Linked DNA regions of Homo sapiens: regions 1 and 3 are each linked to region 2. The links come from fine-mapping of genetic effects on gene expression. A gene starts in region 2. Each other region holds a variant in brackets. All regions are shown on one strand. Distances are from middle to middle. Region 1 has its middle 12 kb from the start of UBB. Region 2 holds the start of SNHG29 (small nucleolar RNA host gene 29). Region 3 has its middle 17 kb from the start of TRPV2.

Region 1 (4,304 bases), 46 kb after region 2:
CGGGGTTTCAACATGTTGGTCAGGCTGGTCTCGAACTCCTGACCTCAGGTGATCCACCCGCCTCGGTCTCCCAAAGTGCTGGGATGACAGGCACTTCGCCCAGCTGCAGTTGAGATTTTCATAGCTACTTACCCAACTGCCTTCCAAAGAGGTTGTACCAGTTTACACCGACCAACAATACATGAGGATGCATTTCTCTGCACTCTTGTAAACAAAAGTATTAACAGTCTTGTTTTATCTTTGTCAATCTGAAATATTAAAAAATGCCACTTCATACATTGAATGGTCATTTTTCTTATGCTAAGTGAAGCTGCACATCTTGTCATGTGTTTAAGAACAATTTTTGGCCAGGCGCGGTGGCTCACACCTGTAATCCCAGCACTTTGGGATGCCGAGGCGGGCGGATCACGAGGTCGGCGGATCATGAGGTCAGGTGATCGCGACCATCCTGGCTAACATGGTGAAACCCCATCTCTACTAAAAATACAAAAAACAAAATTAGCCTGGCGTGGTGGCGGGTGCCTGTAGTCCCAGCTACTCGGGAGGCTGAGGCAGGAGAGTGGCGTGAACCCAGGAGGCAGAGCTTGCAGTGAGCCGAGATAGTGCCACCGCTGCACTCCAGCCTGGGCGACAGAGTGAGACTCCGTCTCAAAAAAAAAAAACAACAATTTTCTTTTCTGTGAATTGTCTGCTCCTGTCCTTTGTCCATTTTCCTATTGTGTTATTAATCTGTTTCTCATATATTTATAGAAACCACTTATATATTGAAGAAATTAGTCCTTTCGGTGGGTGCAGTGGCCCATGCCTGTAATCCCAGCACTTTCAGAGGCTGAGGCAGAAGGATCATTTGAGGTCAGCAGTTCAAGACCAGTCTGAGAAACATAGCAAGAACCTGTCTCTACAAAGAGTTTTTTAAATTAGCCAGGTGTAGTATGTGCCCCTGTAGTCCCAGCTACTTGGGAAGCTGAGGTGGATCACTTGTGCCTGGGACATGGAGACTGCAATGAGCTGTGATCGTATCACAGCACTCCAGTCTGGGTGACAGAGTAAGATCCTGTCTCAAAAGAAAAGAAAAAAAAGAAAGAAATTAGTCCTTTAACGTCAGGCACAGTGTCTCATGCTTGTAATCCCAGCACTTTGGGAGGCTGAGGTGGGCGGATCACTTGAGGTCAGGAGTTTGAGACCAGCCTGGCCAACATGGTGAAACCCTGTCTCTACTAAAAATACAAAAAATTAGCTGGGTATGGTGGCACACGCCTGTGTTGTAAATATTTCTTCCTCGTTTTTAATTTACAAAATATGTCAAGAGACTGGGCACAGTGGCTTATGCCTCTAAATCCCAATGCTTTAGGAGGCTGAGGTAGGAGGACCACTTGAGGCCACGAGTTTGAGACCATCCTGGGTCATATGGTAAGACCCCACCTCTACAAAAAAATAAAAATCAAAATAAATTAGCCAGGCAAGGTGGCATGTGCCTGTGGTCCCAGCTACTCAGGAGGCTGAGGTGGGAAGATCACTTGACACTGGAATTTGAGGATACAGTTAGCTATGATTGCACCACTGCACACAAGCCTGGGCAGCAGAGTGGGAGCCTATCTCTAAATACACACACACACACACACACACACACACACACACACATACACATATAAATATATATGAAGGGATGCATTTACACCATAGAGTTGTTTACAAATGCCCCATTAGTATGAGTTAAATAAATTATGATATATACAACAGAAAGCTATGCAGCTATTTAAATGAAGATATATATTTATTAGCATAAAACAATGTAAGTAGAAAAATTAAGTTTAAAAAAGCAGGATAAAAAATAGAAAGCATTATATGATAACCCATTTTTTAAAAATCTGTGCTATCAATAGTTACCTCCAGATGATGGGAATTTGGTAATTTATTTAGGTAATTTTACTCTCTTCTTTTTACCGTTCCAGATTATCTGAAAAAAAATTTTTTTTTTTTGAGACAGAGATTTGCTCTTGTTGTCCAGGCTGGAGTGCAATGGCGTGATCTCGGCTCACCACAACCTCCGCCTCCTGGGTTCAAGCAATTCTCCTGCCTCAGCCTCCCTAGTAACTGGGATTACAGGCTCCCGCCCACCATGCCCAGCTAATTTTTTTTTTTTT[TTTTTTG/G]AGACAGAGTTTTGCTCTTGTCACCTAGGCTGGAGTGCCTTGATGCGATCTCGGTTCACCGCAACCTCTGCCTCCTGGGTTCAAGCGATTCTCCTGCCTCAGCCTCCCAATTAGCTGGGATTACAGGCATGGGCCACCATGCCTGGCAAATTTTGTATTTTCAGTAGAGACGGGGTTTCTCCATGTTGGTCAGGCTGGTCTCGAACTCCCAACCTCAGGTGATCCGCCTGCCTAGGCCTCCCAAAGTGCTGGAATTACAGGTGTCAGCCACCGCGCCCGGCCCACGCCCAGCTAATTCTTTGCATTTTTAGTAGAGACAGGGTTTCACTATGTTGGCCAGGCTGGTCTTGAATTCCTGACCTCAGGCGATCTGCCCGCCTCAGCCTCCCAAAGGGCTGGGATTACAGGCGTGAGCCACCGCCCCTGGCGTCATGCTATTTTTAAATGTGTTATAAACGTATGAAGCATGGGGGTATCACATGGGGTATTAGGAAACAATTATAATAGTGCTCAGTATGCTTGGCAAAGTATAGCCACATGATATAAAAGGCGTTTGTCAAAGCTACTATTGACACTGGAGTTAAGATAGGCATTAATCAGTAGATTTTTCTTTTTTTTTTTTTGAGATGGAGTCTTGCTCTTATCGCCTAGGCTGAAGTACAATGGCACGATCTCGGCTCACTGCAACCTCTGCCTCCCAGGTTCAAGTGGTTCTCCTGCCTCAGCCTCCTGAATAGCTGGGATTACAGGCACCTGCCACCACGTCTGGCTAATTTTTTTTTTGTATTTTTAGTAGAGATGGGGTTTTGCTATGTTGGCCAGTCTGGTCTCCAACTCCTGACCTTGTGATCCTCCCGCCTTGGCCTCCCAAAGTGCTGGGATTACAGGCGTGAGCCACCGTGCCTGGCCTCAATCAGTAGATTTCAATGGCTCCAGAGTCTCTCTGTCACTGGTTTGTTGATCCCTGGAAGGAATAAATGCTATTATGGTCTAGGGGTTGTGGGATGGCAGGTTTCCTCTTCCTGAAACATCTTTACCCTAAGAAGGTCATTAATTTGATTTCCCCACCCCAGCCCCTGCCCCGCTTTTGTCCCTGCAAATTTGGTCCAGGCTTGGGAGAGGGCTCCAGGGTGTTAAAAAGCTGCCTAGTGGCTGGAGGGGGAGGCTCAGGCAGGCAGAAACCCTGATCGTTTGAGAGGAGCCTCTCAGAGGTCGCTGGGCTCGCTAGGCTCCCAGTCGTGCTTGAGGGTGGCAAGACTTTGGAAAAGACAGTTGCTTGACCCAGCTCCGGGCGGCCAGCCCGCAGAGGTCAGGCGATCATCCACTCTCTTGACGAGTTTCACTCCCACATCTAGGAAAGGCCTCTCTAGGAAGTCCCAGAGATGAGGTCTGTGCCAGCAGAACCCAGGGCGTGAAGACCCAGAATAGGCTGGTTCAGGCTCCTCTCCAGGGCCAAGGCTGCCCCCGCGGCATCCAGGGTTTTATCCCACTCATCTCATCTGCAGGTCCTGCAGAAGAGCGGGCTGCCATGCTGGCTTTGCATCTTCCAGAGACGCTTGGCCAGTTCACCTTCCAGAGCCACATCGTCACGGCTGAAGTAGAAGCCCAGAGAGATGCCAGTTGACCAGGCAGTTAGTGGTTGCCTCCGCCTGGGTGGAATGATTCTGACACATCTGGGAGCTCATGCTTGGGGACAAGAAGCAGATAACCACAAAAACGGTGTTGGCTGGGCCCAGAAGCAGGAGGTTGCCAAGAAGATGGTCTTGGAGGCTCAAGTGGAAAGGAGATGGGAGGCGATCAGAGGCTGGAAGAGGGAGCCCCCTGGTCTGTTCGTTCCAAACACTGTTGAAGCAAAAGACAGAGCCAGAACCCAACATGCTAACTTCAGGCAACGCGCTGTAGATTTCGAATGTGTGTTATGCATAGTTTTTTTTTTAATGTGTGTTATTAATAGTTATCAACAAGCCTTATACCTTCATTTATTCCTTTGGCCCAGAAGCCATAAAGAAAAAGATTGTCAGATGATGATGATGATGATTGAGACAGGGTCTTGCTCTGTCTCCCAGGCTGGAGAGCAGTGGGGAGATCACAGCTCACTGCAGCCTCGGCCCCCTGGGCTCAAGTGATCCTCCCACCTCAGTCTCCCGAATAGCT
Region 2 (4,347 bases):
ATCATTTGATATCTTTTTTTTTTGAAGCGAGTTTTAACAAGATCAGCTGTTTATTCATTCCACTATGGGGTTGAAGGGATCATTGGCCAGCTCAAGGCTTACCTTCTCTTGGGCTGAGATGCTGCTGCCAGCTCTAAAACAGCACTCTGTTCTCAAAACCTGGGGGAATGGAGAAGGCGCATACACCTTAGAGACTGCAGATGCAGAGCAGGACAGGCATTTCTGATGACAGTCAATTAATGACTTTACAAATTTAAGTCCATCCTAACAAAAGCCCCTTAAGACCTAATTAGAGGTAATTTTTCTAAGTTTTTGTAAATTATTGAGGACTACAAATCTTAATTAGCTTCTCAGTAGGTTGTAATTTTTTTTTTTTTTTTGAGATGGAGTCTCGCTGTTGCCCAGGCTGGAGTGCAGTGGCACGATTTCGACTCACTACAACCTCCGCCTCCCGGGTTCAAGCGATTCTCCTGGCTCAGCCCCCAAAGTAGCTGGGATTACAAGTACACGCCACCACACCCGGCTAATTTTTGTATTTTTGGTAGAGATGGGGTTTCACCATGTCGGCCAGCCAGGCTGGTCTTGAACTCCTGACCTCAGGTGATCCACCCACCTTAGCCTCCCAAAGTGCTGGGATTACAGGCCACTGTGCCCAGCCTCAGGGGAGTTGTAATCTCCATTTCAGTCATATCAATTTAAACTTCACAAAGCTAAGATTACTTTTCCTTTTCACATCTGAGGAAAACTACATCTCAGCAGACAGGTAATTTGCCCGAGACTAAACAGCCAAGAGGTAAATAGAGTAGCCCCTCTTTCTAGGTAATCCACCCTGGCTCCACTGCCACCGGAAACTAAAATCAGTATCTCTGGGATAGGCTACACTGTTACAAGGTATTAGGTTAACCAAATCCAATTGCCAATATTCGACCTGACAGCTAGGCGTGGTCAGCCACTAGCCTCCCCATAGAGCAAGGCTTACCTCATGGCAGGCTCCTGGCTCCAATACTCAGCTGCCAAACATGATGCTGATTCTTCACGAATTTGCAACCTAGGTGAATATAGCAATTAGGTCACCGTTCAAACAAGTTTACTCCTGGGAACCAGCAAGTGGTGAAGACTTGACTGCAATCAGACAGGAGTAGTCTTCGTCAGTTATCGCTTCTGACGGCACTTCCTATTAGTGATTTCATCAGAGCAGTCAAGCACCTCACAACCCTCCAGTACTGTTCCAACCGCAGATCTAGACCCTACCTGAAACTTAAGCTAACCCTGCTACTGGAGACATTTCTTAACGAAGGAGTTTGTTTCTGCATTATCAGTTTGCTTTAAATGCAGTTCTAGGTTAGGACTGTGGCTGAAGCAGCCATCTCCAGTTTCTATTTAAGTTCCACCCTATGCAATGACATGATAACGTTACCCTAAAGTGTATAAAACACCTAAACGTAGAAAACTGTCAAAACGCCAATTTCCGTGCATTCAAGTGACAAAACTACGTTCCATGTTAAACCCTACACCAGAGAGCCTCTCACCTCGTGGCTACCCCGTCTTCAGCACTCTGCAGTGGGTACGCAATCTTAAAGAGGGAGTAAGGACAGGAATTCAGGGCAGGGCTCTGGCAGTTACGGTCAACTAAGTTGTAGAGGTTTCAGCGACTGCGGTCAGATAGACATTAGACGTCGTCAGTTATCGCTTCTGACGGCACTTCCTATTACAAGTATCATCAGGACAGTCGAATAAGTCTTCCAGTAATACTGTTACAATCTTACCGACGTACACCGCCCTCGGGGTACCCCAAACTGCAAGCCGACCCCAACTTACCCAGTTCTCTCGGGTTTGCACACCCCCACTGTGGGCCGGGGAACCGGGTCCCGGCCTTCGCAGACTCCAGGCTCTGGCAGATGTGGCCCTACCACAAAAGAGTGATCCATGAGCCTCAGCCACGGCAGCCGGATTCGGCCCCGCGCTGCCCTGCCAGGCTGTCCAATACCGGGCCGCAGCGCCCGCCGCGAAAGCCACGCGGGCGCAGGAGCCGGGGAGCCACGCCATCTCAACAGCTGCCCTCCGCCCTCTAGACAGGCTTCCCGGGAACATCTCCCCAGAGACCACAGAAGCTCGAGCTCTTTATTTGCTCTTGCCCCCCAGCTACTACTCCCAGATTCCTAGAGAGCCTACCTCCATAACAACGGGAATGAAAAGGTCACACCTTATGTGCGCCAGGCCCTTAAGGAGTCGGAATATCCCAATCCTCACAAAAGGAGGGGGACGCTGGCAAAGACTCATGGGAACTTTCCGCCAAGTAACGATTTAGACCGGCGCGCTACCCAGGACTCCCCCTCCTGTTGAGTCTATGGTCTCTTCCACAGCCCCGGGAATTCTGGGTCACAACACGCGCGGGGAGTTCCAGGGCGCCTGCGCGAGGGCTGGATCGCGCGTTTGGGCCCCACCTCCGCCACTCCTTAGCTGGGTGGTCTTGGGCCAATTACTCATTCTCTTTAAGCTTCCGATTGGTCCTCTAGTAAACGGAGACACCAGCGCCCCAGAAGATCACGTGAGATGACACACGTGAAAGCCTGTAGAGCTGTGGCACAAGGCAGCCATTCATCCTAGTAGCTCCTCCTGAATCTATTGAGCGTTGCCAAATACTCTCCCCACAGCTATTTCACCACATCCACGGGGCTTCTCAAACCCCTGCGCACTGGTCACCCTCATTACTCCTTTAGCACGACCTTTAGGGAACGAGCTGACGTCTTATCTAGATCCACGTCCATCCTCTGCTCGCCTCTGGGGTAAAGCTCTGCCCACCTCCTTTCCTCTCCTCATTCCTTGGGGCCTCCTCCACCTATGCCCCTGCCTCACCTTCCATGGAAAACTCTCTCTACTGTGGCTTTCCTTTCAGCCTATGAACATGCTCAGCTCTCTCCTTGAAAAAGAATCCATGCAACCACGTTTTGCACACACACGTTATACCAAGGGAAAGAAATTCATTTTGACTGCAAAAAACTGGGAAGACAATCATAAGACCTTTTGAGCTGGCCTCAGAAATAAGTGTAGGGTTTTTGTTGTTGTTGTTGTTGTTGCTCGTTTTTGTGTTTTTTTGAGACGGAATTTCGCTCCTGTTGCCCAGGCTGGACTGCAATGGCGCGATCTCCGCTCACCGCAACCTCTGCCTCCCGGGTTCAAGCGATTCTTCTGCCTCAGCCTCCCGAGTAGCTGGGATTACAGGCATGCGCCACCACGCCCGGCTAATTTTGTATTTTTAGTAGAGACGGGGTTTCTCCATGTTGGTCAGGCTGGTTTCGAACTCCTGAACTCAGGTGATCCGCCCGCCTGGGCCTCCCAGAGTGCTGGGATTACAGGCGCCCGGCAAGTGTAGGGTTTTATTTTATTATTATACTTTAAGTTCTAGGGTACATGTGCACAACGTGCAGGTTTGTTACATATGTATACATGTGCCATGTTGGTATGCTGCACCCATTAACTCATCATTTACATTAGGTATATCTCCTAATGCTATCCCTCCCCCCACCCCCAAGTGTAGGGTTTTAATGGAGGAGGGGGGCTTCCAGCAAGAGCCAGGTCAAGGGATCAAGCACGAGGTCTCTCGGCCTGCATGAATTTGGGGAGAGTGCTAAGGAGGGAGGGGCAACAGAGGTGGAGGGGAGGAGGTGTCTGGAACTGCTTGGGCAAAACCGTGGGGGTCTCGGGATGTCAGCTAGGGCATTCTGTGGGTACTGGGGAGCCTCTCAGGCCTTCAGAGCACAAAGAGGACATGTTTGTCTTATGTCTTAGGAAGGCCCTCTGGCTGCCCTGCAGAGAATGGCTTGGGAGGGGTGGGAATTGAGCAAGAAGCTCGGTAGGAAGAGAAAGCAAGAGAGGTGGCTTTAATGGGTTTTCCCAGGTACCTGCCCAAAAGCAGGGTGGGTGTGGAAAGCAAAGGGTGTCGTGGTGGAGAGAGAGGAGAGGTGGCTGTTTGCCCATGTCCATCACCATATATCTGCCACAACAATGGGCACAGCACCTCAGCCAGCTGCCTGTACCCAGGAAGAGGACAGTCCCCAGACTTGGGGATGTGGGGGTGAGGGTGGGGACACAGCAACTGAGGGTCTCTGTGCCCAGGCAAGGGCAGGAGCAACCTAGTCCCATACACAGACCTGTGCACACAGAGACATGCAGACATTGCCAGCTCTAAGGGTCCCAGCAACTCTGCCCAAATAATGTTTCCAGAAGAGTTAGTTAGTGAAAATATATATTTGCCACCAGAATTCACTGGGACCCCAGAGCCAGCAGATGTGGTTGGAAAGATCCTCTGCTCTGTCCTCTGGCCTCCTGCTGCATCTGGGCCATCAG
Region 3 (4,000 bases), 41 kb after region 2:
GTCGGGCTGGGGGACAGTCAGGTCTTTCTCATCCCATGAGGCCATATTTCAGACTATCACATGGGGAGAAATCTTGGACAATACCCAGCTTTCCAGGGCAGAGGTCCCTGCGGCTTTTCGCAGTGCATAGTGCCCCTGGTTTATTGAGACTAGAGAATGGTGATGACTTTTACCAAGCATACTGCTTGTAAATATTTTGTTAACAAGGCACCTCCTGCACAGCCCTAGATCCCTTAAACCTTCATTCCATACAACACATGTTTTTGTGAGCTCAAAGTTGGGGCAAAGTGGCTGGGGCAAAGTGGCTGGGGCAAAGTTACAAATTAACAACATTTCAGCAAAGCAATTGTTCAAGGTACGCTTTGGGAGGCTGAGGTGGGCGGATCACGAGGTCAGGAGATCGAGACCATCCTGGTTAAAATGGTGAAACCCCTTCTCTACGAAAAATACAAAAAATTAGGTGGGCGTGGTGGTGGGCGCCTGTAGTCCCAGCTACTGGGGAGGCTGAGGCAGGAGAATGGCGTGAACCCGGGAGGCAGAGCTTGCAGTGAGCTGAGATCGCGCCTCTGCACTCCAGCCTGGGCGACAGAGCAAGACTCCGTCTCAAAAAAAAAAAATGTACAGGTCAAAATGGAACTTCTTATGTCTTCCCTTTCTACATAGACGCAGTAACAGTCTGATCTCTCTTTTCCCTACACCAAAGTGCTGGGATTACAGGTGTGAGCCACTGTGCTCGGCCCTTTTTTTTTTGAGTGGGAGTTTTGCTCTTGTTGCCCAGGCTGGAGTGCAATGGTGTGATCTCAGCTCACCGCAACCTCCGCCTCCTGGGTTCAAGTGATTCTCCTGCCTCTGCCTCCTGAGTAGCTGGGACTACAGGCGTTCACCACTACCCCTGGCTAATTTTTTTTTTTGAAACAGAGTCTTGCTCTGTTACCCAGGTTGGAGTGCAGTGGCGCGATCTCAGCTCACTGCAACCTCCGCCTCCCGGGCTCAAGCAATTCTCCTGCCTCAGCCTCCTGAGTAGCTGGGATTACAGGCACGTGCCACCACGCCCGGCTAATTTTTGTATTTTTAGTAGAGATGGGGTTTCACCATGTTGGTCAGGCTGGTCTCGAACTCCCGACCTCAGGTGATCCACCCGCCTTGGCATCCCAAAGCGCTGGGATTACAGGCTTGAGCCGCTGTGCCCAGCCTCAACTTTTATATTTTCAACTTAGTATTTCTTGTTGGTTCTTTTTGGTGTTTTTGTATTCATTTGTTTCATAGTTCTAGTATTTTCCTTTATATCTTTTAATGTGTTTATTAGGCTAATTAAAAATTCTTATTCTGAAGAATTTCAGTTTATGGTTCTTTCTTTTCAAAGTGGTGATGCTTGTTATTGTGGCCTGGAAATTTATTTCCCTTAATGGGTATATTCTGTTTGGCCAGGCAGGCCCCAGTGAGCTCAGGGCATGGGGGTAGATGAGCCTCAGGGAGGCTCTGAGAAAAGACAGCCAATCATGCCTCACCCCATGAGACAACTCCTTGGGTCAATTTTCACACATTGCTCTCTAGAGAGAAGCAGCATTACGAGGACTCATCCCCAAAATGTTACTCCCCAGCCTGGGTGTTTGGAAGAGGGTGGATGAGTAGGCAACTGCTAGAAGCCAGTTAGTCCC[C/G]TTCTGTTTTTCTCAGCATTTCACAAACACAGGATGTCTGGGCAGCCCTGATTTGACTGCAGGTATGCCCAGAGCAGAGATCTGAGTCATTGCAGATGTGGAGGCAGATACCATCTGTTCCAAGGCGATGGCGCAGAACCTCCATGGCTCTGTTTTTATCTTCCGATTTCAAAACAGCACACCCCTTCCCATCACCCCAAGAGCTTTTTCACACCTTTTCCTGCAGGAAAGGCCGGCAGAATGCCAATGCAGCACCTTGCTTGACTCTGGCCTGGCTCTGTATCACGACATATCCCCAGCATCTGTTTATTTATCTGTCTCCACTCTATTCCCAGCGTCTGTTTACTTATCTGTCTCCACTCCATGACTGAGCATATTTGGAGCACTTTGCTCAGGGTAGGAAAGATCAATTTTATTCCTACAAATATCAGGCTTTTCGGTTTAGGTTGAGAACAACATGTTTATTTACTCAGCAGGCATTTTAGACCTGAACTGTAACAGGACACTGGTTCCCCACACAAAGCTGTCAGGCCCCACCTTTCCAGAAAAGAAGAGGTGGTATTGGCCTGTTTCTAGGTGCACCCAAGCCATGACCTGCAGGAAAAAGTCCACGTCTCTCCCTCCCCACAACCCACATTCTGTAGTCCAGGGTCACCCGAGAGAGCCTGTACAGTGTTATATTTACTTTGTGGTATGTCTTAAGGCACGGGCCCCTTATTTTATTATAAATTTCCATGTCATCTGTTTCAGGCCCTGCTCACCTGAGCCCAGTGGACTGTTGACAAAAAAGTATTTGAGGAGATTTATTCTGAGCCAAATATGAGTGATCAATGGCCTGTGACACAGCCCTCAGGAGATCCTGAGAACATGTGCCCAAGGTGCTCAGACACAGCCTAGTTTTATACATTTTAGGGAGACATGAGACATCAGTCAAATACATATAGGACTTACGTTGGTTCCATATGGAAGGGCAGGACAACTCGAAGTGCGTGTGAGGAGTGTATCCAGGTCACAGGCAGATTTTAAAGTTTTTCTGATTGGCAATTAGTTGAAAGAGTTGGCCAGGTGCCATGGCTCACGCTTATAATCCCAGCACTTTGGGAGGCCGAGGCGGGTGGATCACCTGAGGTCAGGAGTTCGAGGCCAGCTTGGCCAACATGGAGAAACCCTGTCTCTACTAAAAATACAAAATCAGCCGGGTGTGGTGGCGCATGCCTGTAATCCCAGCTACTCAGGAGGCTGAGGCAGGAGAATCGCTTGAACCTGGGAGGCAGAGGTTGTGGTGAGCCGAGATCATACCATTGCACTCCAGCCTGGGCAACAAGAGTGAAACTCTGTCTCACAAAAAAGAAAATTAGCCGGGTGTGGTGGCACATGCCTGTAATCCCAGTTACTCAGGAGGCTGAGGCGGGAGAATCGCTTGAACCCGGGAGGAAGAGGTTGCAGTGAGCCAAGATGGTGCTGCTGCACTCCAGTCTGGGCGACAGAGCGAGACTCTATCTAGGAAAAAAAAAAAAAAGAAGAAAGACTTATTATCAGTAGAAAGAAATGCCTGGGTTTTGATAAGGGGTTGTAGAGACCAAGGTTTTATCAGGCAGATGAAGCTTCCAGGTAGCAAACTTCAGAGAAAATAGATTGTAAATGTTTCTTACCAGACTTAAGATCTGTGTTGATGTTAATGCTGGTTGGCTTTTCCTGAATTCCAAAAGGGAGGAAGTTATAATGATGCTTGTGTGACCTGCTCTTCCGTCATGTCCTGAACTAGATTTTCAGATTTACTTGGGAATGTCCTTAGCCAAGAAGAGGGGCCCATTCAGATGGTTGTGGAGGGGCCTTAGAATTTTACCTGTGGTTTACAGGACAGAGCTTGGGACCTCACTGTAGTGCTCTGGCCTGAAATGCAAGTGGAGAGGACAGAGCTAACAATGAAACGAGTGAATTATTTTAAGTGCATGAAGTCAGTCTGCAGAGGAGCAGGCACTTAGAGTGAATCAGCACATTGCGGGAAGCTTTTGAGCAGCCCCAACCTGAGCTCTTGTAGTTTTGTGAAAGGAGAAGAGACAGCAGAAGCATCAGCAGCACAGGCAATGGCCAAGGCCCAGAGCAGCAGACAGGCTGCCATCTACACATCTCCAGGCTCTTCTAGCACCCACTTCTTCAGCTTCTCCCTGCTTGTGTTTGGAGGGTCCCTCTTTTTCTTTTTTCTTTTTTCCTTGTTTTTGGAGAACGGGGTCTCGCTATATTGCCCAGGCAGGTTGGAAGTCCCTGTTTTTCTAAGCTCCCCTGGCCATGTGCTTGAGTGGCTCAGCACCTTCTCCCTTCTCAAGGTCCTGGCTGGTGTG

The links. PIP is the estimated chance that this variant, and not a neighbour inherited with it, causes the effect. A credible set is the group of variants that fine-mapping cannot tell apart.
Region 1: its variant is the best candidate, but not a certain one, in a credible set for the expression of SNHG29 in whole blood (INTERVAL, PIP 0.61).
Region 3: its variant is the best candidate, but not a certain one, in a credible set for the expression of SNHG29 in sun-exposed skin (GTEx, PIP 0.71).

The regions. Positions count from the first base shown.
Region 1 is chr17:16,390,965-16,395,268 of GRCh38, reverse strand. It overlaps the pseudogene FTLP12. Among named protein-coding and RNA genes, the nearest start is that of UBB, 12 kb to the right of the region's middle. The variant TTTTTTG/G (reference allele first, on the strand shown) is at 2,145.
Region 2 is chr17:16,436,886-16,441,232 of GRCh38, reverse strand. It overlaps SNHG29 (small nucleolar RNA host gene 29), which reads right to left and starts at 2,246. Exons shown (of 4, transcript NR_045025.1): 1 at 2,173-2,246; 2 at 980-1,048; 3 at 103-159. It overlaps SNORD49B (small nucleolar RNA, C/D box 49B), which reads right to left and starts at 1,724; the gene lies at 1,677-1,724. SNORD49A (small nucleolar RNA, C/D box 49A) reads right to left here and starts at 1,197; the gene lies at 1,127-1,197. It overlaps TRPV2 (transient receptor potential cation channel subfamily V member 2), which reads right to left. Exons shown (of 15, transcript NM_016113.5): 15 at 4,230-4,347. The coding sequence ends at 4,344. It also overlaps SNORD65. RefSeq lists enhancers at 1,041-1,942, 2,248-2,577, 2,638-2,827, 1,943-2,842, 2,843-3,744.
Region 3 is chr17:16,396,546-16,400,545 of GRCh38, reverse strand. No RefSeq gene overlaps it. Among named protein-coding and RNA genes, the nearest start is that of TRPV2, 17 kb to the left of the region's middle. RefSeq lists a cis regulatory region at 1,335-2,398. The variant C/G (reference allele first, on the strand shown) is at 1,659.